2 separate regions of the Homo sapiens genome follow, and region 2 is linked to region 1. Evidence: fine-mapped expression QTL. Tissue or cell type: cerebral cortex. Region 1 holds a variant in brackets; the other region holds the start of a gene. All regions are shown on one strand. Distances are between the middles of the regions.

Region 1 (2,763 bases):
CCCTAGAAGTTGTCTAGCTTCAAAATTCTCTATGGCACGTGGTGTCTTTGTGACCTGGTTGATGTTCAATTACTATTTATTTAAAGGATGAATGAGTTACAGGAAGATAAGTACTATGCTGCCGCTGTAGTGGATCCGGGTTGCGCTGGTTTGGTCTAGCATACAACTTTGCATACAGGTCTCTTGGAATGGACTTGACGTGACTCTCACCCACTGGGTTCTACCTTGATCGAGGCTCTGAGCTGGCCTTCAGCTGGACAAAGCTGAGGGGGTTTAAGAGCCACTGACAGATTGATGGCCTATTAGCTGGAGCGTACCTCTCCTACGAGGGTTCCGCCGGGGCTGTCTGTTCTCATTTAGAGACAGGTGTCTGAATGCCTCGTCTGCCTGGAAACTGGCAGAAATAATGGACTGGTTAGGAGGCTGGATAGAACAGGATTCTAGAGAGCTGTCAAATGTGATTGCTGAAATGATTTCAGTATGAGCTTATCAGACTGTTTAGGAACAGAGAACAAGCACAGTACATGTTATTTATGGCATTCACACTCTTGCAGCTAGAAACAAAATATAGCATGTTCCAGGCTCAGATTTAAATTAGAATATTCTGGCATGCATGCACAGATTAACTGAACAATAGAATTGGGAGAAAAAAAGAGCCTCAAACCTAGATGAGGTGGGGGGAGTGAATATGTCTAATTTTACAGTGCATTTTGAAAATGTTTCAGTCCTCAAATGAACTGATTGTCCTTTACCAAATCTGGGAATGAGAAAAGCATCCTAGTATGTCCAATTGTGAACTATTTTAGCAAAACTCCTGCTGTGAATAATTGCTAAATTACACTGTTTGTGAATTACATTGTCTTCTTGTGCCTTAAAGACCTGGTTGGATGGATCTTTCAGAATCTTCTGCAGTCATTGTAGTGACGCTGAAATGGCTAAGCGTTGTTCAGTTAAATAAATGTGTACTTTTAGCCAGGTTGCTAACATTGCATCCCAGTGGATTGTTAACTACTGTGTGAGTGGAACTGATTACACTGCAGTCGGTCAGGTTGTGTTTGTGTCCAAAGGTTTGGCTCACATTTATTGCTGAGAGAAAGATGGGGCAGGGTTGACATGTAAAGGATCCCCATTGCTCTCTCCCTCTCCTTCTCCCTCTCCCACATGTGGCCTTAAATCATGAGACTCCATGGAATTTAGTGTCA[G/T]ACAGTCTTAGGTTTGACTTCAGCCCCACCTCCTCTCAGGTGTGTAAGTTTTATCTTTGTTTCTCTCTTTTCATCTATAAGAGAGTAACACGACCTTGAAAGGATATTGTGAGGATTAAATGAGATCATATTTACAGTGTTTGGCCAATAGAAGTTAATTTTATCACTTTTACCTCTTTTTCCCCTGATAATTTGAATGGATAAAATGATATTGGTAGAAGTGCTTTAATGCATATCTTAAAAATAGTCCAATAAATATGCTTAAAGAAAAGAGATGTCAAAATATCTACTAGTTAGGTTTAGAAGTATATTATTTATCACAAAATGATCTGTGTTTTATTGAATTACTTTATTTTGAACTGCATTATGTATGCAGATGAATTTTTTTCCTTCTGTCTCATATATGTATACTTAGATAGATAGATAGATAGATTTTTTTCCTCCTTTTTGGGTCATCTCAAATGCTTTTTGGAAAATGGAGAACAATAAAGTTTAAAGTACATAGATTTTTATGCTTTTGTTGAGCTTTCATACTTCAGTGCATGTTAATGAAACTCATTGTAGGCATTGTTGCTTCATGATAACAGAAAAGCATTATTATTCAGATAGTACAATGATAAAAATAATTTGTGTTTGCTAGGAAAAAATTAATGGACCTATGTTTATATGACTTGATGATTGAGACTGGTCTGTAGTCTGTCTAATGACACTGTTTCTCAGTAAATACTACGTGGGTAAATCCACTCTCTTCAACTAAAACTGAGATAGCCACTGGAGTGTTGAGGGCCTCTTTGATTGAATACCTGTGCATTTATAATCTTGATGTTGGAAGAAAGCCTTTGTAGACTAATCATATAGTCTCAGGTTTTTTACTATTTATAATTAATAATGTTAATGTTGTAGGGATTATGATTAGACTCAAAGCATAGATTATGTTAGCAAATTTGTTCTTCCCTATCATGACTTCTACTTTTAAACATTACCTGTAGCATTTTGTCCTAATTATAATACAGAATAACCCAGGTCTCTTTCTCTATTATTTCTCAATAATCTATTGATTATTCCAGAAAAGAGAGCTATTTCATTTATAAAACTCCCCATGGGCAAAAACCATGATTTAAATACTGTTAGTATATTTCTTACCCCTGAATTCTTATGAATATTTTCTTTTGAGTTGATAATAAGACCTCTGTGGCCTATCCTCTGTCCTTAAAATTTTTAATAATTATGTGAGACTCATGATTAATTCTATCATGTGATCTAAAACATGGGCCAGGCCAGGCACAGTGGCTCACACCTGTAATCCCAGCATTTTGGGAGGCTGAGACGGGCGGATCACAAGGTCAGGAGACGCAGACCCTCCTGGCAAACATGGTGAAACCCCGTCTCTACTAAAAATACAAAAATTAGCCAGGCATGGTGGTGGGTGCCTGTAATCCCAGCTACTCGGGAGGCTGAGGCAGGAGAATCGCTTGCACCAGGGAGTCGGAGGTTGCGGTGAGCCAAGATCACGCCACCCCACTCCAGCCTGGCCACAGAGGGAGACTCAGTCTCAAAAAAC
Region 2 (2,624 bases), 640 kb before region 1:
CTTTTAACAGCAACAGTATAACCACCTCAGCTTGTTTTCTTTGCAGTTGTCCTGGAAACATAAACAGTTGTTGAATAAATATACAATAGAGGATTTTTTGGGTTTTTTTGCTTTCCCTAATATGGCTGTGTTCAGTAATGGCCAGTGTGTGCTCCAGCCTAGCAGCACATCAAGATCATGGGACACCTGAAATCCCAAAGGAAGCCTGAAATGCCTAAGAGGGACAAGCGGGATGGCTGCTGGTTTAGGTTGACATCATCGAATGTGGAAACCTTCAGACTTCCTGGTGCCATAATCAATGAGATGGTGTCATCGTTGACTCCACAGTAAAAAGAGGACCGGAGCATTATGGGGTGAGAGCCAGCAATAGTCCACGATGCTGTACTGCATGTAGCCCAGAAAAAAGCCAAAAGCTACGTCGGTGACATTGTGCCGCCCCAGCATGACCCTGGATAGGCCCAAGACGAAGGCCCACAGAACCACCAGCACCCTCAGTGGAATGGCCAGCACCAGGTGGTTCAGGATGAACCTCGACATCAGGGCGGCCCTTGTGGCATGGCCCGAGGGGAAGGAGTACTTGTCCACCGAGAGAGTGACAAACATGTCCATCTGGTTGTGGGCCGGGCGGCGCCTGCGGACCAGCCCTTTGATCAAGGCCACCAGCAGCAGGTCCAACAGCAGGGCGAAGAGCAGGTTCATCAGCACCTCGCGCCCGGCCCAGCTGTCGCTCCTGCACAGGCAGTAGAGGGTGCCCAGCAGCCAGGGGATGCCGTGTCCCGAGATCTCCAGCAGCTTCATAAGGGGTCGCACGCTGCCCCACGACGAGCTCTCTCCCGCGCACACCCCCAGCTTCTTGGACAGCCACAGGTCGATGGCCAGCAGGGAGCGCAGGGCGATGCCCAGGAAGGACGGGTTCAAGTCCATGCGGTCCTCCTCGGGCAGCGGAGGCGCGGGCGACTGCGAGGGGCCCGCCGCGGCCAGGGGGAAGGAGCCGCGGCGGTGAACTGGGCTCTCCGATGCACGGAGCCGGGCGCAGGTGGGGTCCACGGCCGTGGCGCGGCTGCTGAGCAGGGACTGGAACTCAAACCTGCTGCCGCCGCCACCGCCGCCATGGGCTGGGCTGCCGGGGCTGCTGCTGCTGCTCGAAGCGGAGACGCCCAGCGGCCGTCCCTCCATGCTCCTCCGGGGACTTGGCATCGCAGCTGGCGGCCCGGATCCCGGGACCTGGCCGGACCAAACAGAGGCTTCCCGGCCCTGCAGCCTCTTCCGCTTCCGCACTACCATCCCGGAGGGGCGGGGAGAGGAGCCGGCGAGAGCGCGATTGTGACACCTGGTGGAGACGTGGGAGGGAGTTGGAATTTCCAATGTGAGGAGAGCAGAGGGGAGGATGTTGGCGTTGGGAGGTACAGGTGAGGGAGTGAGGTGATGGGGAAAATGTCAGTGTCTGTAGGAGCTTAAGAGAAATAGAGCCCCGTGTAACAAAACAAAGCAAAGTCTGTTTTCTCTCCCTTGTTTGTTGTTTTCTTTCTTTTTAAGATTTCTTGCCCAGGAGTGTTCCTGCCTGGCAAACAAGATGTGTACCTCGGGGTCTACCTCATGAATCAGTACCTGGAGACCAACAGCTTTCCCTCTGCGTTCCCCATTATGATTCAGGAGAGCATGAGATTTGAAAAGGTGATCTTGACTTTCTCATTGGCTTTTGTTGTCTGAAGATAACCTGAGAGTTCTTATAAAGAACAGAGTTCTTACAGCATTATTTGGTAAATTTCATTTTTAAAAAAATTATCCGAAAGCACTTCAGCACAATGCAAAACCGCAGTCGGAACACTTGCTTTTGTAATGCAGGTCTGAGCCAAGTTCTGTCAATCTAGTGCTAAATACCCTGGTTGATGTTTCCTATTCTTGGAACTCCCATGGCATTTTTTTAACTGGAGCAAAGAGAGCATTTCTGAATGTTTTTGGAGGTGTTAGAGGTAATTGCATTACATTTACGAAAGGGATTATTAATAAACTGTGGACCTTAGAAAAAACTGTGTTAGACCAAGAAAAATAGCGAAAAAAAAATAATGAAATTAGTTAAATCCTGTAACTAAAATCCTGTAACAAAAAGGCTGTTCAGATTTACTGTTTCCTCAGATCATACCTAGATTATTTAGCTACAGTGATAAAGGCTAGATTCCATTCTGGTGAATAACATGGTGATATAAATAGTCAAAACATTACCAGCCTTCTTCACACTAAACTATTCATAGAATATTGATGTTATTACTATGTCATCACTGACAATCTCTTAACATTTTTGTTTTGGAATTTGGAGATGGAATCAATTTTAACCTTAATAAGTCTAATGATTTTGCCCCAAACAATGTCATTGAGGGAGATCTGGGGAGAAGGAAGGCTACAGAGTAGAGCATGTCACATTTTTTTAAAAAAATTATACTTTAAGTTCTAGGGTACATATGCACAACGTGCTGGTTTGTTATATATGTATACATGTGCCATGTTGGTGTGCTGCACCCATTAACTCATTCCCCCCACCCCACGACAGGCCCCTGTGTGTGATGTTCCCCACCCTGTGTCCAAGTGTTGTCATTGTTCAATTCCCACCTATCAGTGAGAACATG

Evidence for each region. PIP is the estimated chance that this variant, and not a neighbour inherited with it, causes the effect. A credible set is the group of variants that fine-mapping cannot tell apart.
Region 2: it holds the start of PLPP6, and the variant in region 1 is the best candidate, but not a certain one, in a credible set for the expression of PLPP6 in cerebral cortex (GTEx, PIP 0.84).

The regions. Positions count from the first base shown.
Region 1 is chr9:4,025,400-4,028,162 of GRCh38, reverse strand. All of the region lies in intron 4 of GLIS3 (GLIS family zinc finger 3), which reads left to right. Among named protein-coding and RNA genes, the nearest start is that of GLIS3-AS1, 130 kb to the right of the region's middle. The variant G/T (reference allele first, on the strand shown) is at 1,203.
Region 2 is chr9:4,660,949-4,663,572 of GRCh38, reverse strand. PLPP6 (phospholipid phosphatase 6) reads right to left here and starts at 1,279. Exons shown (of 1, transcript NM_203453.5): 1 at 1-1,279. The coding sequence starts at 1,197. The coding sequence ends at 310. SPATA6L (spermatogenesis associated 6 like) reads left to right here. Exons shown (of 12, transcript NM_001353486.2): 2 at 1,537-1,674. RefSeq lists a silencer at 885-1,144.